7 linked regions of the Homo sapiens genome follow. The protein of the gene in region 2 purifies or fractionates together with the protein of the main gene of each other region. This does not show direct contact. Each region holds a gene or a part of one and is shown on either strand. Other genes may lie near its edges. The genes, in order: NPEPL1, AP1S1, AP1B1, NHLRC2, TRMT1, TRMT61A and ARMC6.

The links.
Region 1: the proteins of AP1S1 (region 2) and NPEPL1 fractionate together in Homo sapiens (co-fractionation; one large-scale study listed by BioGRID). This does not show direct contact.
Region 3: the proteins of AP1S1 (region 2) and AP1B1 fractionate together in Homo sapiens (co-fractionation; 6 studies listed by BioGRID and IntAct, with this or other methods). This does not show direct contact.
Region 4: the proteins of AP1S1 (region 2) and NHLRC2 fractionate together in Homo sapiens (co-fractionation; one large-scale study listed by BioGRID). This does not show direct contact.
Region 5: the proteins of AP1S1 (region 2) and TRMT1 fractionate together in Homo sapiens (co-fractionation; one large-scale study listed by BioGRID). This does not show direct contact.
Region 6: the proteins of AP1S1 (region 2) and TRMT61A fractionate together in Homo sapiens (co-fractionation; one large-scale study listed by BioGRID). This does not show direct contact.
Region 7: the proteins of AP1S1 (region 2) and ARMC6 purify together in Homo sapiens (affinity purification with mass spectrometry; one large-scale study listed by BioGRID and IntAct). This does not show direct contact.

What each region holds. Positions count from the first base shown.
Region 1 is NC_000020.11:58,690,784-58,695,894, reverse strand, and holds the start of NPEPL1 (probable aminopeptidase NPEPL1), read right to left. Parts: upstream 3,096-5,111; 5' UTR 2,995-3,095; coding exon 2,845-2,994; intron 2,159-2,844; coding exon 1,973-2,158; intron 1,474-1,972; coding exon 1,303-1,473; intron 1-1,302. UniProt on the Homo sapiens protein: Probably catalyzes the removal of unsubstituted N-terminal amino acids from various peptides.
Region 2 is NC_000007.14:101,159,310-101,162,284, forward strand, and holds the end of AP1S1 (AP-1 complex subunit sigma-1A), read left to right. Parts: intron 1-163; exon of another isoform or gene 164-246; intron 247-1,209; coding exon 1,210-1,257; 3' UTR 1,258-1,967; downstream 1,968-2,975. UniProt on the Homo sapiens protein: Subunit of clathrin-associated adaptor protein complex 1 that plays a role in protein sorting in the late-Golgi/trans-Golgi network (TGN) and/or endosomes.
Region 3 is NC_000022.11:29,350,571-29,354,070, reverse strand, and holds part of AP1B1 (AP-1 complex subunit beta-1), read left to right. Parts: intron 1-2,245; coding exon 2,246-2,366; intron 2,367-2,804; coding exon 2,805-2,900; intron 2,901-3,500. UniProt on the Homo sapiens protein: Subunit of clathrin-associated adaptor protein complex 1 that plays a role in protein sorting in the late-Golgi/trans-Golgi network (TGN) and/or endosomes.
Region 4 is NC_000010.11:113,902,874-113,907,197, forward strand, and holds part of NHLRC2 (NHL repeat-containing protein 2), read left to right. Parts: intron 1-653; coding exon 654-863; intron 864-1,943; coding exon 1,944-2,163; intron 2,164-4,324. UniProt on the Homo sapiens protein: Required for normal embryonic development.
Region 5 is NC_000019.10:13,106,489-13,110,812, reverse strand, and holds part of TRMT1 (tRNA (guanine(26)-N(2))-dimethyltransferase), read left to right. Parts: intron 1-506; coding exon 507-655; intron 656-811; coding exon 812-898; intron 899-974; coding exon 975-1,044; intron 1,045-1,128; coding exon 1,129-1,263; intron 1,264-1,346; coding exon 1,347-1,432; intron 1,433-2,953; coding exon 2,954-3,062; intron 3,063-3,162; coding exon 3,163-3,239; intron 3,240-4,324. UniProt on the Homo sapiens protein: Dimethylates a single guanine residue at position 26 of most nuclear- and mitochondrial-encoded tRNAs using S-adenosyl-L-methionine as donor of the methyl groups. tRNA guanine(26)-dimethylation is required for redox homeostasis and ensure proper cellular proliferation and oxidative stress survival.
Region 6 is NC_000014.9:103,527,314-103,532,324, reverse strand, and holds the start of TRMT61A (tRNA (adenine(58)-N(1))-methyltransferase catalytic subunit TRMT61A), read right to left. Parts: upstream 3,130-5,011; 5' UTR 3,064-3,129; intron 2,376-3,063; 5' UTR 2,347-2,375; coding exon 2,016-2,346; intron 1-2,015. UniProt on the Homo sapiens protein: Catalytic subunit of tRNA (adenine-N(1)-)-methyltransferase, which catalyzes the formation of N(1)-methyladenine at position 58 (m1A58) in initiator methionyl-tRNA.
Region 7 is NC_000019.10:19,036,164-19,040,487, forward strand, and holds part of ARMC6 (armadillo repeat-containing protein 6), read left to right. Parts: intron 1-4,324.

The sequences.
Region 1 (5,111 bases), on a different chromosome or scaffold from region 2:
GAGGGACGGCAACACCCCATCCAGCAGTCCTTAGAAAACAATGTCAGGATGGGGGCAAAAACTCTGTCTCCATGGGTTAAGAGGGAAAAGAGGATTAAGCAAGGCAAACCAGTTAGACTTTTTTAAAAGCTCAGAGACGAAGGGAAAAAAGGGGAGCTATCTCATGCTGGTGAAGATGGAAGAATTTGGGTTGAGGGGCAGTGGTTACAGGCCTCAGAGAGCACACAGTGAAAGAAATGAGGTGTGGCCCAAGTGCTGATGTGGGAGAGCTTGCCTGGGTGAAGGCGACAGCCTTCCAGAGCCAGAAGTGAAGAATGAGCGCTGACACATGAGAAAAGACAACCTGGGTGGCGCTGTGGGCTCGGGGACTGGAGGTGGCAGGCGCAGAGGCTGGGACCGCTGCCGTGGGGACAGGAGCCTGATGTCAGGCCCATCCAAGGATCTGGAGCTGGGAAATCACTTCCGGCCTTGCAGCCTCAAAAGGATCATTCTCAGCATTGAGTGAAATAACACATGTAGAAGTGCTCCCTGTAAAGGGTGCAGCAACACACATGCACACACACCACACACACACCACTCATGCACACACTAGCACTCATACACACACAGCAACACACACAACACACACACACACCACTCATGCACACACCAGCACTCATACACACAGCAACACATGCTGCTCATGCACACACCAGTACTCACACACAACAACACACACCACACATGCACACACCACACATGCACACCACACACACACACCACTCATGCACACACCAGCAAACACACACACACAGCAACACATACCACACGTACACCACACACACCACTCATGCACACACCAGCAAACATACACAGCAACACATACCACACACACACACACATCACACATGCACACACACACCCCCCACACATACAACACATGCACATACACTCATACACGCACAGCAACACACATGTGCACGCACATACACACACACGTGCATACATCACACACGTGCACACGGAGCTCACATAAACGGGCAGGGTTATTTGGAAAACAGCATGGACGTTCCTGGCACTGATTACGTGCTCAACAAACACTGCCTGTATACAACAGAATCCTGAAGTCACAGACCACGCTGAGGCAGAGGCAGGGGGCCTGGGTTTGGAAAAGCCTCTGCCGCTTCCCAGGAACCAAAGCTCCTGGGAAGGGCAGGAACCCCCTCCTGCCCCCGCAACAAGCTTTTCCCTCTCCCGACCTCCCTCCCACCTGCCCGATCTTGCCCGGGCCCAGGGGCAGTGTCTGCCCTTCCAGACACCCACCTGCAATGTGGACACCTCCACCGGCCCGTTGTCTTGTCCCACCAGGAAAAACTCCACGGTGACCGTCTTCTTCTCCAAGCGCCGAGAGGCACCTGAGCGGTGGGTGAACAGCGGGAAGGCCCGGGCCAGGGCACAGGCGGAAGCAAAGACCTCCGGCTGCTCGCAGACCATCTGTGGCACATAGGGAGACGGCGTGAGGGGTGCAAGGGCCGCCACCAGGGAGTGCAGGGAGCTGCTCTTTGAACGCCTCCGGAACATCAGCTCCCTGGCAGGTGACATCTAGACAGAGATGTCCCACAGCAGCCGCCACCCCATCCCTCAGGTCATCCCCGGAACCATGGGACCACCATTGGTCATGCTCCAAGAGAAATAACACATTGGCCACCAGATGTCAACAGCCTGACCAGCCATGAAAATGAGGGACAGAGGGACAGACACAAAGTGGGCCTCAGGAAATCTAGGTTTGAGTCTCTGATTTGCCACCAAAACTGATCTGGGGCAAATCCCCGCGTCTCTCTGGACCTGTTTCCCTGTCTACAGAGCAGGGATGATAACGTCCACAGCCCTCTGGGCGTGCGCTGCAGTCTGAGCAGGGCTGTGAGCTCCCCAGGCCCGAGCTCACCGCTGCCCGACTAGGAGCACCGTGGCTGCCTCCTCTCGAAGCACTCACCACAATGCAGCGATGCGCTCCGGGCGGCAGGCAGGTCCGCACCAGCCGCGTGATGAAGTGGGCGGCCGAGGGGCTGTTGTGCCGGCTCACCCTGCAGGGCAGGGCAGCCACGGTGGCGTAGTTCAGGTAGAGGGGACAGCTGTCCGTGGGGTTGGGGTTGAGCGTGCTCAGGGCAGCCTGCCAGAGCTAGATCAGAAGGGAGAGACAAGACACAGAGGCTTCAAACAGCGGCCACGTGCCAGGAGGCCCTGCCCTGCAGCCACGGCCACAACCACTCCTGCAGTCCTGGAAGGGCACTGCGCAGCTCCCGGCCACCGTTTTCCCATCCTTAGGGAGATGTGTCGCCTCTCTGCAGAGCTAACTGTCTCTAGGCTGGCTCGCATCCCCCTGGTGGGATGAAGCCACCAAGCCTGGAAGGGCCAGGCTGGGGGCTGCTTTGCTTCCAACACTCGGATAGGGCTTAGGCGGCTTCCACCAGAGAGGGGGCAGGGGCCAGGTGTCCCCAAGGAAAGGCAGCTGGGGACACTGCCATGGGAACTTCTGGAAGCCAGGGCCTGTCGCCAGGCGGGGCCGACGCGCGGCCCTGGGAGCGGCCACGTCTCCCCCCCCGCCGTCCGCAGGTGTCGCGGCCTCGCGGGGCGCAGGGCTGGGCTGACAGGAGGACCACCGCGCCGCACCGGCGACGGGGCCTGGGGCTGGGCCTCCGCGGGCGAGGACTGGCCTGGCGGCTGAGCCCTTCAGGGAGGCGGCCCGGCCTCGTTGGGCCCGGCCCGGCGGCGGCGGGGGTGCGGCGGGCGAGGCGGGGCCTCCGCGGGCCGCCCGGGCCTGGGCTTCCGCGGCGCGGGTCGCATGGCGGCCGGCGGCCCGCTCACCTCCTCGGTGACCCGGGGCTGCAGCTTCCCGCGGACGTGGCTCCAGGGCACGCGGTGCAGGTGGTGCAGCTGCCCGAGCAGCAGCAGGGGCCGGCTCTGTGGGTCCGAGTCCCCCGCGCTCGCCTGGAACTGCAGCCCCACGTTCGCCATCTTCCTGCCGGCCCACGCCCCGGCCCTGCCCGGCCCGGCCCGGCCCGCCGCTCGGCCCCCTTCGCCCCGCTCCGGCCCGGCCTCGGCACCGCCCCGGCCCTGCCCGGCAGCCCGCGGGCCCCGCCTCCCCCGCCGCTCCGGGCTGCTCGCGAGACGTGCAGGGCCCGCCCGGGGCGCGAGGGGGCGCCGGCCAGGCCGGGCGGAAGGGTGCGGGCAGGCCCGGCCGGGCAGGCCCGAAGCCGGCCCCGAGCAGGCCCTGCCGAGTAGGGCCCGCGCGCCCGGCCTCCAGCGGCGCCGCCCCTGGGCCTAGCGGCCCTGCCCAACACGCGGGGCGACGTGGCCCGCCAGGCAGCGCCTCCCGGACGGGCCTGGCCTCCAGTGGGGCCTGGGCCGACGTAGGCCCAAGCCCACCCGACGCAGTTCCGCCCGGTCAGGCCTCAGGCTGGCCCCAAGCAGGTCCCCCGAGGTCCCTTAGCAGCTGCTTTTGATCCCCAGGGACCCCGCACCCTGGCCACCCATCAGTTAGGCCGGAGGGGCCCAGTGACTCTTGGACCTGAGTCAGGTCCTTTTGTCCCACTGCCTGGCATGGTGGGTACAGCGTGGACGGTCACTTCCTCCTCACTTAATCGGAGGTTCCCTGGCGTTTATCAGACCCCGCTCTGCCAGGCACTGCCCTGGATGTGAGAGGGTGACAGGGACGTGGCTTTCCATCCAGGGCACTGCTGCTGGGATGGCCAGTTACAAATCCAGGCACTGCCTGGCTGCATGGGGGGCCTTCCCGCCCACCCCTTTGCAAGAAGGGTCATCTGGCACAGTCTAAGCAGGAAAGGAGGGACGAGATGAGACGAGGAAGGAGCAGGGTGACCTGAGTCACCTCAGTCGCCTTACAGGGGAGGAAAGGCCATCGGGGGTGTGGGGCAGGAGCCGGGTGGTGGAGGAGCCAGGGGTGAGCCTTGAGTGGATGGTGGAGGCGGAGGGTCCCACCCACAGGGTCAGATGCAAGGGTCAGGGAATGACGATGCATTGGGGAAGCTCCACCCAGGAGTCATTTAAAAGCAAAAATCTGTTACCCAACATCCTGATTGCTCAAGGGCCTTTGGTTGGTACCCTCCTCTGTTACCTCCATGTAGTTCCATAAGCCACTCCTGTTATTTTGAGTTTCTTCTTCATAACCAGCCTAAAAATGAAAAAAAAAAAAAAAAAAAAAGAAAAGAAAAAAAGAAAAAAAAGCACTGTCAACTCCCTGGCGTGGTGTGAGAGGTTTTCCACCACTGACCTCCCAGCTGGCCCCCTAGCTCCCTAACTTGTAGCCCCGGGAGCCACAAGCCAGGCTTTCACCTTCCCTGTCCACAGGCTCCAGGTCTGTCTGCTCAGCTCTGAGCCATGGTCCCTGGCCCCTTGGAAACACCACAGACTAGAGCTTCAGCATCCTGAAGGCAGGTCTTTTTGACTTTTTGTTGTTTTTTTTTCCTCCAGTTCCTGGCACAGAGCAGGCACTCAAAAAAAAAAAAAAAAAAAAAAAAAAAAAAAAAAAAAGCTGTTGAATGACTGAAAGGCATTCCTTTGAAACCCTCAGCTTTCCCGACATAAAAGTCAACGCTAATTGGATCTTATTTTCTTCAAAAGATTTTACAGCAGCTGAATGTTTTCACACATTGGTAAAGGGTACTAACAGTGTGTATGAAGATCTCTCACTCTTTTTTCTGTTTGCAAATACGTTGCAGACAGGCACACGGCACTCCAGAGGACTGAGACAGCTGGAGGATCTTCCTAGAGGGTGAGAGACTAAGGCCATGCCCTGACAGATGTAATAGGACTTCCACAGGCGAAGAGATTGAGAAAGAAGGCCTTCCACGTGGGAGAAGTCCTGGGAGGAAACACAGACGCAGAATATGTCCAGCAGGCTCTGAAACCTGTGTGGTTAGAACAGAAGGTTCCTGGAAAATAGGAGTGGGTGAGGAGATCGACTGGGGAGCCTGGCTCACTCTATAGAATTTTGCAAACTGAAGAGGGATCCAAGAAGCATTTCAGAAAGCCAGATCTAGCAGGTTTGTGTACAAGGAGTTGGAAATGAGATAAACTGTTGGTGGAGAGGTCATTTTGGAGATGTTTTTCTT
Region 2 (2,975 bases):
CTGTGGTATCTGACCCCCACCACGCCCAGCTCTCCAGCTTACTCTCAAGCCCTGACCCCATGGGGTGGGAGGTAGGGTGGCAGATAGCCCACCTGTGCACCCCTCATTCCAAGCTCTGTCCTTCTCCCAAGCCCCCAGATGTCTCGTGGCCACCCAGTCTCCTTTGTCCAATTCTCTGAGCAAGGCTTAACACCAAAGGGTTAAGGGTTTGCTCTGGAGTTAAGGGTTGCTTGGAGAATTGGAGAAGGGGCACCTGGTAGGTCATTCTTTTCTTCCCTGATTTCTTCCCCCACCTCTCTTTTTTTTTTCTTTTTTTTTTTTTTAACACACACATACTCCAAAGCCTCTGCGTCTCAGGAGGAAAAGGCTATGGGGATTTGGGGGCTGGCAGAGGGCACCTGGATGTTGGTTCTCCCTGCTCCCCAGCGCCCCCGCCCTCACCCCATTACTGCCTGCCCCCTCTCTGCTGTGCCATCACCGAGCCCTGGTGCAGGGAGATGAGTCACCGGAATCTGCAGTGATGAGCGAGCCCGGCCTGAGCTGGCTCTGAGGAGGGGGAGAGATGGGGGGCGAGGGAGGGCTCATCTTTGCAGTGGGAGAGAGGGCAGAACTGAACTTGCCACCTCACTGGTCGAGCTTCACCTTCCCACACACGCACACACACACACCCTGGCGCGCACACACACACACACACACACATGCCCTGGCACACACACCCATCGTGTCACCAGTGTTGCGCTCAGACCCTAATGACGCATCTCCCTGCAGCCTGGTTCACCTTCCCTCAGGGACCTGGCACTCACCTCCCTCTGCCTTTTCCCCACTCTGAAAAACAGGACCCAGTCAGCTGTACCCCCCAGGGCCCCAGAAAGATCCCCCACCTCCTTGTCCCGGCTTCACTCCCTTTACCCCCAGGTGTCAAGGCGGGGCCCCTGCTTACCAAGGTCCTGGCTTTGGGTTCTCTGGGTGGTGACGGACTCAACCTGGACCCCCCCTGCCACTGTTGGCTGGCTCTGGGGCTGGCCCTGGGAGGCTGGTGGGTGCCCCATGAAGGGCTCACTGGTCCGGCCTTGGGCTCACATTGGCTTCTCTCCCCCTCCCCCGTGTCTGTGCCTCCCCCGTCTGACTCTTCCTCGTGACTGCTGTCTTGCCCACCCTGTCGGCCTCTCCTGGTGTCTCTGCGTCACCCTCTGTCTGTCTCTGCCTTAGGAGGATGAGTCGCCACGGAGTGTGCTGGAGGAGATGGGTTTGGCATAGCCCCTGCTGGGCCGGGGTGTGGCGATGGGGTCCTGGCAGCGTGGCGGGAACGGCTGCTTCTCCTCTGCCCAGGGCCCTGTTCTTGGTGGGACTCGGCTGCCCCTCCTCTGCTGCCTCACCTTTCGGAGTGAGCTGTGGGCTCAGGCCCTTCAAACATTCCCTCCCTCCACCCCCTACCTCCACTTTCCCCTTTTCCCACTGAAGGTTTTAGAAGCTAGGAGGCAGGAAAATGTGACCCAGATGGGGGTGCTATTTGGCTTTTATTCCCTGCCTTTGCAGAACTGATGTCACCCCAGATGTCCTTCCCTCCCTAATAACTGTAAATATATAAATATGTCAGGTTAAAGGGAAAAGGTGTTCAGGGCACTTCTTGTCCTCTCTGTCCCATAACCTACCTCCACCCTCCCCCTAGCCAGCCAGGCAGCTTCTCTGCCTGGGAGGGGAGCCTGGACCCCCCTCTTTCTCCTTGGCTGCAGTGGGGCCTTTATCCAGTGCCAGGGAGGAACAACATAGTTAATTTTTTTCTAACCTTGCCACTTTGAGGGAAGGAAGGGTTGGGGGAAGGGCAAGCTTTATGGGACCCTGGTCCTGGCCCTGGCCTTTCACTCCAGTTCTGGGTGAGGCAGGAGCTGGGAGGGGTGGGGAGGGGGAGGGGGAAGTGTCTGCCTTTATGTCCTTTCTTCTGAAATAAAAGTAAAAGCATTTCTGGACTTTGCTGGCCTTGGGCTCTGTGAAGGAAGGCAGGGCTGCTGGCATCATCGGGAGGCCAAGGGGATCCTGCCAGCCTTGGGAAGAAACGGAGAGCACGCAGTTAAATGAGAATTCCAGATACACAACAAATCATTTTAGGGATAAATGTGTTGCATGCAGTGTTTGGGACACATTTAACTCTAAAACTGCATCTGTTGTGTATCTGGAATTTCAGATTTCATTTCCTGTATTTTATCTGGCCACCCTACCTTAAACGGATTTTTATGCCCAATGCGTCTCCAAACGGGCTGCCCCCAACTCCCTGAGCTGCCTTTATGGAAGGAGGAGCAACTCTTCAGGATGCGGGTCTGTTGTGGGTGATTTCGTTTGCCCAGTTTAGTTTTATTTGAATCAGTTCACAAGTACCTGCGATTAGAAAAGGCTTAAGATGGGAGGCCAAGGTGGGGAGGTCGCTTGAGCCCAGGAGTTCCAGACCAGCTGAGCAAGCTGGCAAAACCTCATCCCTACAAAAAATGCAAACATTAGCTGGGCATAATGGTGCACACTTGTAGTCCCAGCTACTCAGGAGGTTGGGGTAGGAGGATCACTTGAGCCCAGGAAGTCGAGGTTGCAGTGAGCTGTGATTGCACCACTGCACTCCAGCCTGGGCAACATAGTGAGACCCTGTCTCAAAAAAAAAAAAAAAAAAAAAGTTAAGAAGTGGCTTTAGCCAGCATGTCTCTGTGGCTGCCACTCCCTCCTCCCCGCATTTCTTGCAAAGTACCTAGGACCAGGAATGTAGGGATCAGTGGAGGGAGGTGGGTGGGTGAACACAGGAAACTCCGGCATTACCCGCGCGGCCCCAGGATCTTGGGAAAAAGGAGCCCACTGGCACCCAGAGTTGTGGCACCTTCTGCGGGTCGCCTTTTTCTTTTGAACCAGAGGTCGCTGGACTGATCGCAGACAATTGGCTCTTTTATTGCATTCCGCTGGGCCTCTCTCTGTCAAGCCCTGGGGAAAGATGACTT
Region 3 (3,500 bases), on a different chromosome or scaffold from region 2:
TGGCTGAGCAGTGAGCTGCTGCTCCCAGGGCACGTGGTATGGTAGTGGGGGGTAGGCGAGAGCAGAAAAACCATTGAGCAGTGCTGGATCGGAGGGGTTCATGGCATGATCCCCTTCTTCCTCTGAAGTGGCTCTGAGTGGCAGAGCCCTGCAGCTCTGGGGAGGGGGATTGACCTTGAGTTCTCCTCACAGCTTTTGGTCAAATGGCTCAGTCAGCAGTGGGGACTTGACAGTAGCAACCATTGATCATTCGTGGGGACTTGACAGTAGCAACCATTGATCATTCGTATGTTACAGCAGGCCCTGTGGCTGGGAGTGGGGCTACACAGAGAACTGGGGCCTCATTAGTCATTTTCTCTTGGAAGACAGCACATCCTCCTGGTTGTAGCTTCAGTCTGGGTCTTAGTACTCTCCCGGGGGACCCAGAGATATTGGTCGAATTGGGTTATTAGGGAGGTAAATATGGGAAAGCCTTCTGAGTTCCTAAACCAAGGGATGAAACTAGGGCTTCCTGGTTGCAGTGTGGGTCTTTATACGCCAGTGCCCTTGGGTCACGGATTTAATGCGGCGTAGTGACTAGTAGAGCAGATCAGCGTGCAGGATTCCCTGTGCTATATTTAACATAGTAAATCTCTTAAGAATTTGTCCACGTCACTGAGACATGCCCTGCCCTGGTCCTGAGATGTGGCTGGGCAGCTTTTGCCAAGTCCTAATCGCAGAAATATCTTCCTGCTACCCAGCTCGGGGTCTTGCCTCTCCCATGGGGCACGACAAAGGCTCCTTGCTTGGCCAGGACCTCCCCGCAGTGTGCACAGCAGCACAGAGTACCCAGTTTTCTCCTTTCTCTCTGTCCTGTCTTCTCCCTTCCTCACCATCTGTCCTCGTATCTTTTCCTTCCTCCTCTCTGTTCTGGAAGGGCATAGGAGTAGGAGTCAGAGGCAGAGGATTCTCGCCCCACTCTCGTCTTTACTGACATTAGCCATGTGACCTAGTACCAGCCTCTCACCCTCTCTGAAGTTTCCTTGTTCAGGAAAAATGTGGTGGGTGATACTCGCGGAAGGCAGAAGGATGTTGCCTTTGAGGGAGGAACAATGACACATGTGAAAGGGCTCAGCTAGTGACAGCTCCTGCCTAGCGGTGCCTTCTCTGAGGCAGGCATCGATCATGCTGGATGCTTCTCGTCTCACTCTCACAGCAGGCCGATTAGGTCGGTGTCCATGTTGGGGTCCCAAGACCACCCTCATGCTCAGGTTTCACTAGCAGTACTCACAGGACTCAGCATATATTTTTTAAATATATATATTTTTTGAGACAGGGTCTCACTCTGTTGCCGAGGCTCGTCTTGAACTCCTGGACTCAAGCAATCCTCCTGCCCCAGCCTCCCAAAGTGTTGGGATGACAGGCATGAGCTGCTGTGCCCAGCCAGGACTCAGCATATAGCTATACCCACAGCAAAGATCTATCAGCAGCAGAGCAGGGCTGCCCGGCTGGGTCATAGGGGAGAAGGACACAGGTGGAGTCTGGAGGGTTCCATGAGAGGCTTCCTTGTACCTCCTCCTTCCCATGGGGAGTCATACAGAGCACACTCCTCCCCCAACAAAATGCAGCAACATGTATGTAATGTTTCTGCCCAGGAAAGCCTATTTGAGACTTCGGCACCCAAGTTTGTTATTGGGGGCACCTACACAAATTCCATATTCCCAGTAGGGAAGCATGTGTTCAGCATAAACTGTATTCTTTGTACAAATGGTCTAGGTACAGTTAAATACCTTTATCATTTAGGGAACAGTGAGAACACTTCAAAATCCAAGTTGCCACGTGCCAGGCCTTCTGAGGCTAGCAGTCCCAGACCTGCAGTAGTAACATGTTTCTGTACAGCGTCATTCCCATTTCATGGGTGAGGAAACAGGCCTGAGGTCACAGGCTGGGACTGGGACTGAGATATGTCTGATTCCCAAGCCCGTCCCATGGGGCCTGCTGCCTCTGGAGAGTGAGTGAGCCGTCTCTCACTGCCCTCCGTCTCCCTTCCGGCGACGTGCTCAGGCACACAGGAGCAGTCACAGCCTTGCTCAGGCCGGTTGCTGGGCCCTCTACCCAGGAGCTTGCAGCCATGGCAGTGACTCTGCCTTCACAGACATCAGGCTCCACCTCAGACCCCAGAAATGTCCCAGCAAATGTGGAGGGCATTTTCTCACAGGGCTTAAGCCTTGTTTTTTGCTCTCCGGGCATCCTGCCCCACCACCAGGCCTGAGATCCTGAAGCATGAGATGAAGGTGTTCTTCGTGAAGTACAACGACCCTATCTACGTGAAGCTGGAGAAGCTGGACATCATGATCCGCCTGGCCTCTCAGGCCAACATCGCCCAGGTCAGCTGCGTGTGATGGTCAGGACACGGGCTCAGTGTGGGACCATTCCACCACCACCAGACTGTAGGCTCTGGCCCAGGTGACCAGTCTCACCATTAACGGTTTATCTCATGAAGAGTGTTTAGCATGGGACATGGGGCTTCGTAAGCAAGTAAAAGAACTGATGTTTTTATTACTAAAGAATGTTTCTCCATGTTATCACCTGTCATCCCTTACAACGTGGTGTTGGATATGTTAGCTAAATCAACCCCAAACAAGGTTGTCCAGGCCTTCTTTCCTTTTCAGGCACCTGCCAGCTCTCTCCCTTGGGCCTTCTACCTGGAGCAGGAGGCAGAATCCCATTCTCCTAGGGAGTCTGTGTATATTCACTGCCCAGGAGTGTTCCAGCAGATTGCCCCATCAGGTGCCCCAGCCCCATCTTTTCTGTTTGGGCCACAGGTGTTGGCAGAGCTGAAAGAGTACGCAACAGAAGTGGATGTGGACTTTGTACGGAAGGCTGTGCGTGCTATTGGCCGCTGCGCCATCAAGGTGGAGGTGAGGCTCTGGGACTCTGTCCTTGGCTGGAGAAGGAAAAGGGGGCTGAAACCGGGAAACCAGTCTGATTCAAGCAGAATCTGCCAGCTTGCTTGTGGTCTGGGAAGGCCTGAGGCTCATCACTGGAGCCCCCATGGCAAGCATTGTGCAGATCTGGTGGGGTTCCTTCTCACTCTATAGTATCCTTTAGGCCTTCGAGTTGCTGCCGATCAAATTAACCCATCATAATCATGGTTCTCCTGCAGCATTTGTTAAGATGCTGGGGCAGCCACAAGTTAATGGACTTAGCATTCACTTCACAGAGCTCTGGGGTAAGGGCCCTGCCTGTTGAACACTTCTTGGCAAATATTGTCATCATTCAGCTGCCCACGTGCCTCTGTGTCCCAGCGTCCCAGGGCCACTCTAGACTCCTGTGTCCTGGCATTTTATCCCCGTCCTTTCTCTGTCTGTGGAGATGTTCCTCGACCACTAAGCCAGATTCTCCTTAAATGGGTCCACTGGTGGCTACAGTGTCCTAGGATAGGTGGTCGCCCCCGACCTATCCCCTTGAGGCGTGCTCACCCTGGAGCCTATGATGCCGTCCTGAGAAATCTCCTTCAG
Region 4 (4,324 bases), on a different chromosome or scaffold from region 2:
ATATCAAGAGAAGGCAAGTAGCAGGGAAATTTATATGTCATCTAACAAATGAACGTTTTTGAGCTGTTGCATAGTTACAGTGCTTGTTAGTAAATAATTTTGTTTTCAGCATTTCCATTTTTGTCTATTAAATTGTCTTAAGTTTTATTGCATTTTTACTTTTTACAAAAATCAGTGGATAATAAATGTTCATGCAGTACTTCATGATGTGAGACCATAAATTTAATATAATTGAGACATAACTGTCAATCATTAAGTTTAACAAAGGTAGCAAATTCTCAGGCAATGCTAGATGCTCAGGAAGACAAAGTCAGTTCAGTTGTGAAAGTGTGTCCCATTGTGAAGAAAAACAATTCAATAAAAAAAAATTTTTTTTAATTCCAGAAATAACTTCATCAAAGATTGCTTCCAGAAGACAAGATGGAGCTAAGGATTTTACATAGTCTTTAGTTCTTAGAATAGAATATCTCCCCTTAGACTGCAATTTGAATGTTTGGCTTTTCAAGAAAATATGGAAATAACTATTCCTTTTGTGAGACTTATTGAGAATATTAATGGCAATCAGAAATTAGCTTGCTTGATACCATACTCTTCCATACAACAAACATGAGATTGATCTTCAGTTATATAAGTTTTTGTTCTTTCTTTTTTAGATTAAAGTTGTGGATCCAAAAACAAAAAACTGTACAACATTAGCAGGAACTGGAGACACAAATAATGTTACCAGTTCCAGTTTTACAGAGTCAACTTTTAATGAACCAGGAGGCTTGTGTATTGGAGAGAATGGAGAATTATTATATGTAGCAGACACCAATAATCATCAAATTAAAGTGATGGATTTAGAAACTAAAATGGTATCTGTGGTAAGTAATTTTAAAATATAAGTTAAAGAATGTGGTTTTAAGAATGATACTAAGATCCTCACAGCACTGACAGAGGCATTTTTGGTTAGACCATCTCCAGGAGAGTATTAAGTGGATGCTTCTGTTGTATTCTTTGACAAAGAGACCAGCAGGACTGCTTTAAGGATATCCTTTTATTCTTAAAATAAAAGTTCCATCTGTGCTGAGAGTTTGAGAAAAATACTGGAAATTGGAGATAATCTAATGAACCTTCAAGAAAAAAAAAAGGAGAGGACTCAGATCTGTTTTTAAGTGTACAGACATACTGACATACACTACATACACCTGCTCTGTGGGTTGGGTTATTTAGCTTATTGTTTTTGTTTTTTTTTTTTTTTCAGTGATCTTTAGATTAACATGTAACCTTTGTTTGCCTGTGATGAATCCATTACCAAATAATCTAACAAAAGCTTTAGAAGCCACTTTCTCAAGACATCGAAAATAAGATTGTGGAAGAAACTTAAATGAGTTATAGTCAGTTTTTAAAGATATGGACGTGGTTTCTTATAGAATTTTCAAGGGGAAATGTCTATTATAAACTAACTCTTGATGTATGACATTTACCTGAAAAAAATGCAACAGTTTTTTTCTGAAAAACTGGTAATTTGCACGGTATATTTTTAAAAGAAACATAGATTACTATTGCAACATAAATGTCATTTCTCTTCACGTAGATCTCTGATATAAGATGAATAACATCTTCTTATAGTTGACAATGAAAATTATAAGAAAATGTATATCTAGCATGTTTAAATTTATAAACTTTTGCTTTAATTTCCTGCCGTCTATATACATTGGACAGTTACTTTAATTCTGCCTCATTCATAAGTGTTGGGTTTTGTTGTTGTCGCTAAGATAAACTTTCTCTGTGTCTACGAAAATAATCTTGAGGGCATCTAACACATTCTAATTCAAACTAGAATGGCGATTAGTTTCATTGACATAGAACTTCATTATTCTACTAAAGTCTAAAAATATGCTCTCATTCTATAATTAATATAAAGTTCTTGTGTTTTAATAACAGATTTTCTTATTTCCTAGCTCCCCATCTTCAGATCTGAAAATGCTGTGGTAGATGGCCCGTTCCTAGTAGAAAAACAGAAGACATTACCCAAACTACCTAAATCTGCTCCAAGCATTAGGCTTTCCCCCGTGACTGCGTGTGCTGGCCAGACTCTTCAGTTCAAACTCAGATTAGACCTCCCATCAGGATCAAAGCTAACTGAAGGAGTATCCAGTTGCTGGTTTCTAACAGCTGAAGGTATGAGTATAAGCTTGCAAATACTAATACATCATATATTCTTGATGTTTAATCTAGTTATTTTTTATTTGTTAGGTGATATTTTTACTCTGTATAGGCAAGATTTGAAGATCATATGAACAAATGAATCCAGATCCAACCCCACATTGGCCATTTGCTTTACTCATCAAGAGTCTTTCTTCCCTTTTATTAAAGAACAGTGTAACTCACCAAAAGTTACAAGTCAGTTGTTAGCATGATTTCTTGGAATGTGGGTTTTCCTATACCTCATCCCTTATTCTGATCCTGTTCTTCATTCTATTCTTGTTCCAAAAAGAATCTTAGAGTTAAAAAGTCTGAAATAGAGAAAGTGGAGCCCTCGTATTTAACATCTTTTTCTGTGACTCTTCCTTTCAGTCACTCTTGGGCATTCCTCCCTTTCTTCTATTTGTGAATCACAGTATGAGCTAGCTCCTTATTTCATTAATCTATGGTAAGGAATCAGTATACTGCTTGCCTTGCAGTATGCATTCCAACATCTGTAACCTGGTGGACAAAAATTTTAAAGTGAAATTTTAGTGGTTCAGAACTTCTAAATTACAACTTGTCTCTAATGATATTCCTCTGTCCTGGTCTCCCACGCTCTTTCACACTTTCTCACTCAATTTTCCATTTCCTTCCCAACTCCTCCTCCTTCATACCCTCTCACACACTTTTCTTTTGTACATTACCCAAATCCTGGGTAATTCATTCCTTCTTACCTTCAACTTTCTCAGGGCAGCAGCCACTGGCCTGCAATTATAATATCAACTTAGTGTCTAAACCAAGAGGATAACGGTATCTTGGTAGACTGGCTGGGAGGAACTGCTGGTTAGTGTTTGGGAGGCTGGTTCTAGGGTGATTGAGTCTGTAGGGAAACCACCCCTTGTCACTTCCCACAAGGGGGAAGGCTAACCATGTACTAGGACCTTTGGAGCTTGCTTTGTAGACAGAAGAATACTCAAACCCTGGCCACTCCATAGCCTTTTGTAGGTTCAGAGCAAGTTCTAGACTGCCAATTTAAGTCTGGAAGTATTACATCAGTTGGAGAACATTAATTTTTCTCAGTGTAACTGTAAGAGCAGTCACTGTTAGAGCAGTGTATTAAATGGTGTCACTGTAGGAGCAGTGTACTAATTTTTAAAATAGGATATTGACAGATTAACATTGGTCTGCATTGTCAGACACACTAATTAATATTGAGTCATTGGGATATAAAATACAGATAGTATTCAAATAAAGTAGTCTATAGAGACTTTATCTAATTTGTCCAAGATATGGGCCCCATTTTTATTATATAGTAGCAGATAATTTTCAGGCAATAATCCTAATAATTTAAGGTTTTTGAATATTATAGAGTACATTTGTACACTTATGTTTAAAGGACATTTTCTCTTTTGGCTTGTTATTTAGAAACACTTATTTTTAGCCAAATTTTGGTCTGTATAATCTTAAAGAAGTTAGAATATATGCAAGTTTTAAGCCAAAAAAAAAAAGGCAGCATAAAAGCACCACATGTGTTGTAACTTCACAAATTGTGTGTGTGATATATATGACAAATATCTAAAGAAACATTTTCTGTTTTATTTCTAGATTTGGACATTAAAATAGCTCAGTATTATTTTCTTTGTTTGATTTAAAATATAAGAAATTGGCCAGGCGTGGTGGCTCACGCCTGTAATCCCAGCACTTTGGGAGACAGAGGCAGGCAGATCATGAGGTCAGGAGATCGAGACCATCCTGGCTAACACGGTGAAACCCATCTCTACTAAAAATACAAAAAATTAGCCGAGTGTGGTAGTGGGGTAGTCCCAGCTACTCAGGAGGCTGAGGCAGGAGAATGGCGTGAACCCGGGAGGGAGGCAGAGCTCGCAGTGAGCCAAGCTCACGCCACTGCACTCTAGCCTGGGTGACAGAGCGAGACTCCGTCTCAAAAAATAATAAATAAAATATAAGAAGTTCTCTACTAATCTCTCTAGCAAAATCATGCATTAGATAAAAGATACTCTCTAACCCAGGAATAAACAAAGAAAGCCAAAGAGTTTTAAAGAGAATTTAAAAAGAATTCTTTAAAAGCTTCAGCATAGAAGTTTTGTACTTATCTCTCTAGATTCTTATCTTTCACCTTCGTACTCTTATTTGA
Region 5 (4,324 bases), on a different chromosome or scaffold from region 2:
ACACCCAGCTAATTTTTTGTATTTTTAGTAGAGACGGGGATTTCATCATGTTAGCCAGGCTGGTCTCAAACTCCTGACCAGCCTCCCAAAGTGCTGGGATTACAGGCATGAGCCACCACGCCCGGCCCAGGCCCCAGCAGTTCTACAGCACCTAGTATCCCCACTTCCTGCCCACAGAGCCCTTGGGGGCTGGAACGTGGGTCCTCAGTACATGCCACATGGCACACCGATAATGCTGGTCAGAATAGGTTGGATCTATGCTTTCCTCACTCGTTTAGTGCCCCCAGCAGTGCCACAGACAGGGACTGTTGTGATTTTGCAGATGAAGAAACTGAGGCACAGAGAGGGGATACTCACTTGTTGAGGGTCCCACAGCCAGGACTTTCAGGGGTGGGCTTGGATCCCAGGGAGCTGGCCCTGAGCCTGTACTTGTGAGTACCACATAGGGCTCCTGGTGGGGTGGGTGGATAGTGGAGGGGAGGCTGACACCCACCCCCCACCCCCAGGCCCTGAGAATCGTCCTGCACAGCCTGGACCTCCGCGCCAACTGCTACCAGCGCTTCGTGGTGCCGCTGCTCAGCATCAGCGCTGACTTCTACGTGCGTGTTTTTGTCCGTGTCTTCACCGGCCAGGCCAAGGTCAAGGCCTCAGCCAGGTCAGCCCGGGGGCAGAGAGCGGTGGTGGATTGAGAGAGGAGACAGGACCTTGCCCTGGGGGATCTGGGGCTTCTTAAGGGACAGAGCCAGTCTAAGGGAGGAGTTGGGGTGTCGTGGTCACGCTGGGAACTCGTGGCCACTGGTACCCCCCACAGCAAGCAGGCGCTGGTGTTCCAGTGTGTGGGCTGCGGGGCCTTCCACCTTCAGCGTCTCGGCAAAGCGTCAGGAGTCCCCAGCGGCCGGTGAGCAGGGAGGAAGGAGAAGAAGGGGAGTCCCAGGGTTTTCCTCCCTCCCCACCAACCACCCCTCTCTGTTTAGGGCCAAGTTCTCTGCAGCCTGTGGTCCCCCTGTGACCCCCGAGTGTGAACACTGTGGGCAACGACACCAGGTAGGGCTAGGCCAGGGGAGGCAAAGGAGCAAGAGGGTCTTGAAGGTCATAGTCCCTGCTCACCTGTCCCCGGTGCGCCCCCAGCTTGGTGGCCCCATGTGGGCAGAGCCCATCCATGACCTGGATTTTGTGGGCCGTGTCCTGGAGGCTGTGAGCGCTAACCCCGGCCGCTTCCACACCTCGGAGCGGATCCGAGGGGTCCTGAGCGTCATCACTGAGGTGAGAGCCGGGCTGTGACGGGGAAGGGGGCTCCACCTGTGCCCGTCCATCTCCACTCATGCCCATCCTGTCCCCCATCGCAGGAGCTCCCGGACGTGCCTCTGTACTACACCCTGGACCAGCTGAGCAGCACCATCCACTGCAACACACCAAGCCTCCTGCAGTTGCGGTAAGAGCCCCTGGGGTCGGGAGGAGCCTGTCCCAGACCACAGGGTGGCCTGGGGCAAGTCCAGGGATTCTCATGCATAGAACTTGCGAGGGGGTGGGGAGAACCCGGTGCACTGTCTCATTCCTGTAATCCCAGTACCTTGGGAGGCTGAGGCAGGAAGATCACTTGAGGCCAACCTGGGCAACGTAGTAAGACCCTATCTCTAACAAATAAATAAATAAATATATATGTACACACACATACATATACACACACATACATACGTATGTATACACACACACACACACACACACACCCATTAGCCTGGCATGGTGATACATGCCTATAGTCCTAACTACTCAGGAGGCTGAGGTGGGAGGATCATTTGGGCCAGGAGTTTGATGCTAAAGTGAGCTATGATCATGCCACTCCAGCCTGGGTGACAAAATGAGACCCTGTCTCTTTAAAAAAAAAAAAAAAAAAAAAAAATTAGGCCAGGCTTATTGGCTCATGCCTATATTCCCAGCACTTTGGGAGGCTGAGGTGGGCAGATCACTTGAGGTCAGGAGTTCAAGACCAGCGTGGTCAAAATGGTTAAACCCTGTCTCTACTAAAAATACAAAAATTAGCTGGGTGTGGTGGCACATGCCTGTAGTCCCAGCTACTTGGGAGGCTGAGGCACGAGAATCACTGGAACCTGGGAGGAGGAGGAGGCGGTGGTGAGCCAAGATTGCGCCACTGCACATCAACCTGGGCAACAGAGCGAGACTCCATTTAAAATATAATAATAATAATTAGAAAAAGAAAAAGGCCAGGTGTGGTGGCTCATGCCTGTAATCCCAGCACTTTGGGAGGCTGAGGCGGGCGAATCACTTGAGGCCAGGAGTTCGAGACCAGCCCGGTCAACGTGGCGAAACCCCATCTCTACTAAAAATACCAAAATATTAGCCAGGCGTCATGGCACATCCCTGTAATCTCAGCTACTCAGGAGGCTGAGACAGGAGAATTGGTTGAACCTGAGAGGCAGAGGCTGCAGTGAGCCAAGATTGCATCATTGCACACCAGCCTGAGCGACAGAGTGAGACTCCACCTCAAAAAAATAATAAATAAGAAGGCCAGGCACGGTGGCTCACTCCTGTAATCCCAGCACTTTGGGAGGCTGAGGCGGGCGGATCACAAGGTTAAGAGATCGAGACCATCCTGGCCAACATGGTGAAACCCTGTCTCTACTAAAAATACAAAAATTAGCTGGGCGTGGTGGCACATGCCTATAGTCCCAGCTATTCGGGAGGCTGAGGCAGGAGAATCGCTTAAACCCAGGAGGCGGAGGCTGTGGTGAGCCAAGATTGCGCCATTGCACTCCAGCCTGAGCGACAGAGCGAGACTCCATCTCAAAAAAAAAAAAAAAAAAAAAAAGAAAAGAAAAGAAATGAACTCTGTAGCCATGAGCCCTTGCCGAAGGTAGTCTTACCTACGCTGGTCAGCTTGGGCTTTGGGGTCAAGGAGTCCGGCATCTCCCTCATAATCCCTGCTGTTCCCCAGGTCGGCCCTCCTCCACGCTGACTTCCGGGTCTCACTCTCCCACGCCTGTAAGAACGCTGTGAAGACGGATGCCCCTGCCTCTGCCCTCTGGGACATCATGCGTTGCTGGGTGAGGGCAGGGCTGACCTCATGCAGGTGGGAGGGCAGGTGGTGGTCACCTGGAGGTCCCTTGGGCCTAGTATTCCCTAACCTCTGACCTCTGCCCCCAGGAGAAGGAATGTCCGGTGAAACGGGAGCGACTATCAGAGACTAGCCCAGCGTTCCGCATTCTCAGTGTGGAGCCCAGGTAGGGGCAAGCACATGCAGGAGCGGCCAGGGCTGCCCACAGACATGGAAGCACATGTGTGTGCAGACAACACAGATGCTGCCCCACACAGACTCGTGCCCATTCTTCAAGTGAGATTCAAAATCTGCTGACTGGGGCTGGGTAGGTGGCTCACGCCTGTAATCCCAGCACTTTGGGAGGCTGAGGCAGGTGGATCACCTGAGGTCAGGAGTTCAAGACCAGCCTGGCCAACATGGTGGAACCCCATCTCTACTAAAAATACAAAAATTAGCTGGGCATGGTGTGGTGGTGGGTGCCTGTAATCCCAGCTACTCAGGAGGCTGAGACAGGAGAATCGCTTGAACCTGGGAGGCAGAGGTTGCGGTGAGTCTAGATCGCGCCATTGCACTCCAGCCTGGGCGACAGAGCGAGACTCCATCTCAAAAAGAATAAAAAAATAGCTGGGTGCGGTGGCTCATGCCTGTAGTCCCAGCACTTTGGGAGGCCGAGGCAGGCGGATCACGAGATCAGGAGATTGAGACCATCCTGGCTAACACAGTGAAACCCTGTCTCTACTAAAAATACAAAAAAAAAAAAAAAAAAATTAGCCGGGCGTGGTGGCAGGTGCCTGTAGTCCCAGCTACTCGGGAGGCTGAGACAGGAGAATGGCGTGAACCCCGGGGGGCAGAGCTTGCAGTGAGCCGAGATAGCGCCACTGCACTCCAGCCTGGGTGACAGAGTAAGACTCCGTCTCAAATAAATAAATAAATAAATAAATAAAAATAAAAATAACTAAATCTGCTGACTGGGCTGGGCGTAGTGGCTCACACCTGTAATCCCAGCACTTTGGGAGGCCAAGACAGGCAGATCACCTGAGGTCAGGAGTTCAAGACCAGCCTGGCCAACATGACGAAACCCTGTCTCTACTAAAAATACAAAAAAAAAAAAAAAATTAGCCAGGTGTGGTGGCACATGCCTGTAGTCCCAGCTACTCGGGAGGCTGAGGCAGGTGAATCGCTTGAACCTGAGGCAGAGTTTGTAGTGAGCCGAGATCGCACCACTGCACTCCAGCCTGGGCGACAGAGTGAGACTCCATCCCAAAAGAA
Region 6 (5,011 bases), on a different chromosome or scaffold from region 2:
GCGAGGCCAGTGGCAACCCTGCCCTATCCTGCCTAGCGCAGGTATAGGGAATGAGAGCAGCCCAGCTGCCTGGAGCCTCCGGGGAAATCTGTGCAAGGGGGACAGGGAGGCCATCCCATCACTCAGCCCTGTCTTATTCCATGCATGGCCCATCACTTCCTCAATCCCCGTCAACAGTGGCCCACCCTGCCGGTCCTCATGCCCACCTCTCCCCAGAAGCTCCTTGGTCCCCTTGAGACAGCCCACCCCCACCAAGCCTGCCCAAACCTGCCCCCACCACACAGGGGCTGGGGCTCTGCCCTGGCCTGGTTGGACTCAGGACGCAGGGCCTGGCCACCAGCCACACGGCCCCAGTCCTCCCCAGCGCACCTGCCCCCAGCTTCCCTCCCCAGCTTCCCTCAAGATGGCCCCTCTGCTTGACTTCCTGTCTTATGGAGAGGGTCAAGGCTTGCATCCCTCCTCCCACTCCAGCTTCAGGGGCCATCTACCTGATGCCACTCCCATCCCCAGGCCCCTCCACTGGAGACTCCTGCTAGAGCAGCCACTGCACACTTGCCACCCATGCCTGGAACCCAAATAGCGCTGAGCATCGCAAGTGCTTGGGCCAGACCCATGGAGGTGCCTCCACTCCCTCTATCCCGTCCCACGTCCTGCCACCTCCCACATTCCTTTCAGGGGCCAGCCCCTCTCCCCACCTGTCCAGCCCCTCCCCTGGGTGCCCCCAGCCTGCTGCCTCGCCCCTCTGCAAAGCCTGGCCATGCCCCCTTCCCACTAAGGGGCAAGTCAGACTTGTTAGCCTCCGGGGTGGAGCTCGCTTCCCCTCCAACCTCACTCCCAGCCCCTCTGCCTCCCCCACTGAGCCTGACTCGGCAGCATGCTCCAACTGCAGGGCCTCGGCACGGCTCCTCCTTGGTGCAGAGCTGTCCCTTGGCTCTTCGTAGGTCCCTCCTCATCATTTTCAACTCAAATGTCCCCTCCTCAGAGAGGTCTTCCCTGCCTGGCCTAGCTGGAGAGTCCCCACTCTGGGTACCCCTCAGACACGCAGCCCTGTCTCACAGGCTTCACAGCAACCAGCGGCACTGAGATGCTCACCTAGGCTGTGTCCCCCTCCTCGAGGGCAGGAACCTGGTCTCTCTAGTTCACGGTTCCTAGGAGGGGACCTGGCATATCTGAGGAGGCCAGGAGAAGGTGCTGCTTGATTGAGCTCTCTCGCGAGAGTGGGGCAGGGGCGGAGAGGCCAGCACCCACCACAGGATGCACAGGAGCAGCAGCTGATGGAGTTGGCTAAGTCCTGCTCTCCACCCCTCCCACCCAGACACCCCAGGGAGGGACATGGTGACCTGCAGCCCTCAGAAAGCCAGCATGGCAGTGCTAGGCACTCTTCGTGAACCTGGACCCTAGCTCTCCTGCCCGGGAGGAACACGCCACCAACAACCTAGATGCATCAGCGCCTGGGGCCAATCTTGGCTTCAATCGCCACACTGGGCGGCCCCAGCACCTGTATATGTGCAGGGGTTCCCACAGCCCAGGCCCTGGACTCAACAATGGTGCTCACATTCATTGGTAGCAGGTGAGGATCTGATCATGGATGAGGATGGGGAAGGCTCCCCACCTACAGTGAGCTCCTCGGGGTAGCCCTGGCCTCTTTCCAGAAGGGGCAACTCTCTCTGCTTCACCATCAGCACGGAGGACTAGAGGTTGACGGTCAGTACCTAGGACAGCGCCAAGCATCAAGCTGGCCACGCCCCACCAAGGCAAGCAGGACCCTCACTAGAGCACCAGTCCTCCCCAGCTCCTCCTGGTCCATTTCCCACCACCTCTCACTCCAGTTACAGCACCAGCCTCCTAACGGGCTTCTCTGCCTCCACCTTCACTCCCTGCTGTCAGCATCCCGGAAAGATGTGAAAATAGAAACTGAGGAGCCACATGTGTCTGTAGGAAGGGCAGGCTGGAGGCTCTGACCTCCACCTTTGTGTCAATTTCTGCGTTAAACTGAGGCAGCCTGAGGAACTCACCAGACTCACAGACCACAGAGCCGGGCCGAAGCTCCAACATCATGGTGATGAGGGCGATGTCTGTGGAGTAGAGGATCTGCGTGCGGTGCGGCAGGTTCAGCGTCCAGAGCTCGGGCGTGGGGTGCAGCACATACACCCAGCCACCTCGGCCGCACGTCACCTTGGAGCCGAAGGGGCGGCCGATAAGGTCAACTGAGTGCCGCAGGACACCATGCCGGGTCTGGGTCTGTGCCCCACGCTGCACACGCACCGCCACCATTGCACCATGGCCCAGTGACAGGATGGCCGTGTCACCCTCCTTGATCAGCTCCTCGTATGCCACGAAGCTCATGGTGCTAATGTCTGGCAAGGGCCAAGGACCTGGGGAGGGGTGTGTGTAGGCATGAGCAAGTCAGGAGGCAGGATGAGGGCCTAGGGTCTAGGTAGAAGGCTTCGAGGCCTACATCCCAGCAGTGGGCATGGGCGGGGTGTGGCTAGCTCAGCCTCAGTCTCTGCCACTGCCTGACAGGGAGCCCAATAGCGCTGCACTCTGGCCTGGCCTCTGAAGCCTTTCTTGGTCTAGGACAAGAGACAGGGACTATGAGCCTAAATCAGAGATGAAAAGACTGAGGCTTGGCAATGGCGGAGTTCGGTCCCAAGGATTCCCGGAGTGAGGACCCGACCCTCCCATCACCCTTCTCCAGGAGCTTGACTCCCATTCCCAAGATGTGAGATGAGGAAGCGCCTTTGCGAGGTGTCCACCGGCGGGGGAGAGGCAAATGGTCAATGAGGTCACCTCCAAGCCAGGCTTGATTCCTCACCCCAGTCTCCCCCACGGGGGCTAGGTGGCAGGGTATGACAGAGGATTCAGGGCTCCCCAGTAAGGGGCTGGGGACGCGGAGCTGGCCGTCCACGCAAACACCGCCCAGCCGATGCAGAGGCAACAAGGGGCCAGGCCGGGCCGGCGGGGGCCGCCCATGCGAGGCTGGAGGGACAGGCCCTGCGCGCCGTGCCCGGCCCGGGTCACCCTCACCCGCGCCCTGCCACCCTGTACCCCGCGGAGTCTCACCTGCGACGCTCCTGCTGCCGGGGCTCCACACGTGCCTCCGCGACGCGCGGCGGCGGCGGCCACAACACTTCCGGCTCCGCGCCCGCTGATGACGTCGCGCCCCGCCTCCGCCTCCCCCTCCCCCCCTCCGCGCACGGGATCCTGGGAGCGCCAGGCTGCCCTTCCCGCCCCTCCCAGAGGACGTTTCCTGGGCGACTTCTTCCCTCATGTGAGCTGCTCTGTTTACATTTGCTGGTCGCTGGAAGATCGAAAGACTGGACAAAATCCATATGGCGGCCGGCCGGCGCGGTGGCTCTCGCCTGTGATCCCGCGCTTTGGGAGGCCGAGGCGGGAGGTTCTTCTGAGCTGAAGAGTTCGAGACCAGCCCGGGAAACGTAGTGAGACCCCCACCATCTCTACAAATAATAACAAACAAACAAAAGGTCCCCCCGCCCCGCCGGCCGCGGGTTGCCGTCGCACCCAGGCACATTTGAAGGGCGGCAGGAGCCAAGGCCTGGCTGTCACTGCTGTCCCGGACCCCTTTGACGGCCCCTGGGGGTTCACCAGAGGGCTGGCCCGTGGCTCACTGCCCAGTCCTCTATGAGGACACTTCGCCATAGACATTTTGTTATTGCAGACTGCTCTGGGAACACCCCTGACTGGGCCCTAAAATGAATTCCAGAAAAGGAATCGCAGGTCAAGGGGCGGTTCTAAAAGGCTTGGGCTAGGGTCAGCCAGAGCTCTGTGCAGCAGATGGGGGCCTGGAAAAGTCTGCAGAAGTGGCCTTCCGCCCAGGCCCTGCCTCCCCCGACGGGGGCACGTTGTCCTGAGTGCAGAGCTGCTTCTAGGAGGGAGTAGGGGTCCTGTGTCCCCTCCTGCGAACCAAGGCATAATGAGAACTGGATGACTTGGGCCCACTTTTGGGTCTGGTGAGCAGCCTGGGCAGGAGACTGGAGGAGGTGCTGCTGGAGGATGGGCAGAACAGGGAAGCGGGAGTGGCGTTCTGTCTCAGCAACACCATTCCCAGCTGGCTCCTCTGTGGAGTGTGTGTGCAGGGGAGCGGGGGCAGGGGACACGGATTTTCTTCCTCCAGCTCTTAGCTCTCAGGACCAGAGCTTGGAGAGGAACAGAGACCCCCCTACCCAGCCTAGGGTTTAGCCTGCGCCCGAACCCAAGCCAGTTAGCAATGACCCTAGGGCACCCTCCCCAGTCACTCAGCCACTCCAGCCTGGTAAGATGAGGTGGCCAGGCTCCTGCAGAGCGAGCTCCCCTCTGGAGCCCTGGCAGCCTGTAGAGCACTCTCAACTCTCTCGCCTCTGGGGCAGGCCAGGCCAGGCTGTTTGTGGCCCTTGCATTGGCTTCTCAGGGTCCATCATGGAAACCTAGGGGTCCAACCTCAGCCCCTCTGTGTCCCTGCCCTAGCTGCGGCTGAGAGCCCCCAGGAGTAAGCTGGTGAGAGGCCTTCCATGGCCTCCCACTCTCTGTGGGCTCCTGTCCCTGTGGGGCCACCACGCTGGCCACCAGCTGCCTCTACTTCTGCCTTACAGCCTCCCTGCCTTCTGCTCTCAACGTTGAAACAGCCCCCTCCACAGCTCCCGAACCTGTGTTCCAGCGGATGCTTCTCTCCCTTGATGATGCACCCGCCTGAGTCACCCCCTAATTTCTCCCCTGGGGGATTCTGACTTTCCACTTCTCTTGGGTTTCTCTTCCCCAGCCTCTCAGCTGTGGTTGGTGTGGAGTCAGGGCCGGGTGCCTATAAGGGCCTAAGGTAGGACTTGGTGACTCGGCGGTGGTTTCCCTTGGTTCCGACTTCCCTCTTGCCTCTCTGTCTATTACTGGCTGGTCAACTCCTCCAGTGCCCCTTCCTCCAGGCAGCCTCCTCAGCCCTGCCCACCTGCTCCATCTGAGCCTGCCCCAGTCCCCAGCCTGAGTCCTCAAGCAGAACCAATCCCCCCTACCTCAGCTGATG
Region 7 (4,324 bases), on a different chromosome or scaffold from region 2:
CAATTCTCTTGCCTCAGCCTCCTGAGTAGCTAGGATTACAGGCGCCCACTACCACGCCCAGTTAATTTTTATATTTTTAGTAGAGACGGGGTTTCGCCATGTTGGTCAGGCTGGTCTCGAATTCCTGACCTCAGGTGATCCACCGGTGTCAGCCTCCCAAAATGCTGGGATTACAGGCATGAGCCACGGAGCCAGGCCAAATCTGCATTTTTACATAAACGTTAGGGCAGAGAGAGCAACTGGATATGCATTTGTCTCAGGTGATGACTTTCTGTCCTGCACTTGTGAAGATCACCTGTCAATTTACATTGCCAGGGTGACATTCAACAAAATTGTTTTCAGGTAAAGATCTTGAGGGCCACAAGGAATTTCCTGGCCTGGCCGGGGTGGTGGGAGTGGAGTCCCCTACTCCTTACTCCCTACTGAGAAACTCTTTATATTACTCTTCCTTCACCTTTAACCTTGGAAATCCATAGCAGCCCTTAAAGAGCTCCCTTTTCTTCTGGGGCAGAAAGGAGAGGGGCCTATCTGCAAAAGAGTGAGATGGGACTCCTGCATAAACTTGCTGAATTGCCTCTTAAGCAACAAAGGAAAGGAACAAATAGCTAATTTATTGAGCCTGTCCATATCCTGTTCTGAGGAAGGTATAGGAGTTGGCTGAATTTTTCACTACTGCCCTATGAAGTAGATTCGTGTTTATCTCTGTTTGACACATGAGGGAATTGAAGAAAAGTGTATCTGGCTGGGCGTGGTGGCTCATGCCTGTAATCCCAGCATGATGGGAGGCCGAGGCAGGTGGGTCACCTGAGGTCAGGAGTTCGAGACTAGCCTGGCCAACATGGTGAAACCCTGTCTCTACTAAAAATACGAAAATTAGCTGGGCGTGGTGGCGTGGGCCTGTAGTCTCAGCTACTTGGAGGCTGAGGCACAAGAATCGCTTGAACCCAGGAGGCAGAGGTTGTGGTGAGCCAAGATCGTGCCACTGCATTCCAACCTGGGCGACAGAGCGAGACTCTGTCTCAAAAAAAAAAGAAAAGGGCATTGAAGTGGAGGGCATGGGAACTGGGTTCTGCAGGCTGGCTGCGAGCCAGTCCTTCTCCCGTCAGGCAGTGTGCAGTCCATGGTGGGCATCTGCAGGAACACAGATGGAATGTGTATATCCCATGCCACTGCCTGAAAAGAGAAGCATGGGCCAGAGTGACCTGTTTCTTTTTCCTTTTTTTTTTTTTTTGAGACAAGGTCTTACTTTGTCACCCAGGCTGGAGTTCAGGGATATGATCTCAGCTCACTGCAGCCTTGACCTCCCTGGGCTCCCACCTCAGCCTCCCAAATAGCTGTAACTACAGGTGCATGCTCCCACACCTGGCTAATTTTGGTATTTTTTATAGAGATGGAGTTTCGCCACGTGTCCAGGCTGGTCTCAAACTCCTGGCCTCATGTGATCCTTCCGCCTCGGCCTCCCAAAGTGCAGGCCACCATGCCTGGCCTGAAGTGGAAACTTGATAATTCCAGAACGGAAACTTGATATTACTGCAATAAGCAAGGTGGATATATTGAAACAATTAAAATTTAAAAAGTTGTTAACCTCTGTTAGGCTCTGGACCTAAGGCCTGTTCCTCCTTTTGTTCCAAAGGGACGGTGGCAAATGTTAGGTTCACTCGTACCCTGTCAAGACCTTCTGGTTAAGATCATCTACAGCAGGGGTCCCCAATTCCTGGGTCACAGACCCATACTGGTCCAGTGGTCCCTGGCCTGTTAGGACCTGGGCTGCACAGCAGGAGGCAAGCGTAGGGTGAGCGAGTGAAGCTTCATCTGTATTTACAGCAACTCCCCATCACTTGCATTATGCCTGAGCTCTACCTCCTGTCAGATCAGCAGCATTAAATTATAGGAGCACGAACCCTACTGTGAACTGCACATGCAAGCGATTTAGGTTGGGCACTCCTTATGAAAATCTAATGCCTGATGATCTGTCACTATCTCCCATCACCCCCAGATGGGACTGTCTAGTTGCCAGACAACAAGCTCAGGGCTCCCACTGATCCTACATTACAGTGAATAGTATAATTATTATATTACAATGTAACAATAATAGAAATAAAGTGCACAATAAATGTAATGAGCTTGAACAATCCTGAAACCATCCCCACCCTAGCCCCACCATATCCATGGAAAAATTGTCTTCCACGAAACTGGTCCCTTAGGCTAAAAAGGTTGGGACTGCTGAGCTACAGGTTTGAAACAGAATTGCAAAGGGATTTGGTGTTTTTACCAAGAGTTTTATCTTACTTAACTCTATGTCTTGTTCCCACCTGTCAGAGTGGAAGGTACTGCCCAAGGTTAGTGGGTCATCTAAGTGTTGATACCTACCCCTGGTTTCCAGGGTATGCCTATACTGGGTTTTACTTGTTTGTTTATTTATTTATTTTTTGAGACGAAGTCTTGCTCTTGTTGCCCAGGCTGGAGTGCGATGGCGTGATCTTGTCTCACTGCAACCTCCACCTCCCTGGTTCAAGCCATTCTCCTGCCTCAGCCTCCCGAGTAGCTGGGATTACAGGCGCCCCACTAATTTTTGTATATTTAGTAGAGACGGGGTTTCGCCATGTTGGTCTTGAACTCCTGACCTCAGGTGATCTGCCTGCCTTGGCCTCCCAAAGTGCTGGTATTACAGGCATGAGCCACCATGCCTGGCCTTACTTGCTTATTTTTATTTTATAAGGTGGGTTTGTGTGTATACACACACACACACACACACACACACACATTTTTTTTAAGAGATATGGTCTCACTGTGTTGCCGCAGGCTGGTCTCAAACTCCTGTGCTTGAGTGATCCCCCCGCCTTAGCCTCCCAAGTTGCTGAGATTACAGGCACAAGTCATTGCTCAGTTCTTTTTGTTTTTAAACAGATTAGCACTTTAAGAAATTGAGCTATAATTTACATACCATAATATTCACTCATTTGATTTAGTAATTTTTTTTTTTCTTCTGGAGACATGGTCTCCCTCTGTCATCCAGACCGGAGTGCAGTGGCCCAGTCACAGCTCACTGCAGCCTTGAACTCCTGGGCTCAAATGATCCTCCTGCTTCAGCCTCCCGAGTAACTTCAACCACACGCAAATGCCACCACACCTGACTATATTTTTAAATTTTTTTGTAGAGACGGGGCCTTACTATGTTGTCCTTGCTGGTCTCAAACTCCAGACTTGAAACAGTCCTCCCACCTTGGCCTCCTAAAGCACTGGGATCACAGGTGTGAGCCACCATGCCTGGCCTGATGTAGTGATTTTACGTTTTCACAGAGTTGTACAACCATCATCACTATAATTCAAGAACGTTTTCATCACCCAGAAGGAAACCCTATACCCATTAGAAGTTACTCCCCATTCCCTCTCCTCCAGTCCCTGGCAACACCCAGTCTGCTTTTTGTGTCTGTGGATTTGCCTGTTCTGGATATTTCATGTCATTGGAATCGTGCAATATGAGGCTTTTCGTGTCTGGCTTCTTTGACGAGACATCATGTTTTTGAGGTCTATCTCCATTGTAGCATGCTTCAGCACCTCATTCCTTTCTCTGGCTGAGTAATATACCACCATGCGCACAGACCATTTTATCCATTCATCTGTTGGTAGACTCCGTCTCCTTTTCTTTGTTCTTGTGATTTATTTGTTGAAAACTCTGGGTGTTTGTCCTCTAGTTGACATTCTCTTCCCTAGTAGGGATTTTGCAGATCACATCCCCATGGTGTTGGTTAAGGTGTCAGAGCTGTGCTGTGCAATACCATAGTCACTCGTCACACATGGCTATTTACATTAACAAATTAAAATGAAATAAAATTACACACTCAGTTCCTCAGCCACACTGCCACACTTCAGCTGTGTGATAGCCACAGAGGCCAATGGCTTCTGTACTAGGCAGTGCAGATAGAGAACGTTTCATCATAGCAGGAAGTGCCCTGAATGCATGATCAGATTCGGGTTTGAGATTTTGGCACGATGACTTCACAGGTGCATTTTGTTCTTGTTCAGGAGGTAGGTGTTGCTGGTTTCTCTTGATGATGTGAGATCAAGCAGTAGACTGAGTTCCTGTCTACCCCTTGTTGGGCTCCCATCAGTTTTACACCTGATGGTTTTGGATCCTGTGGGATCATTATCTGTTTCTCTCCTGTCACAGCTGATCAGCTGGAATCGGAAGCAGAACTTTTCCTCATCCTCTTTTTATAACCTGGGACTCATTTGTACAAGGGAGGCAGGTTAAGTGCTAGGTTTTTTTTAAAAAAATTGTTACTAATTATTGTAGAGACAGTGTCTCGCTACGTTGGCCAGG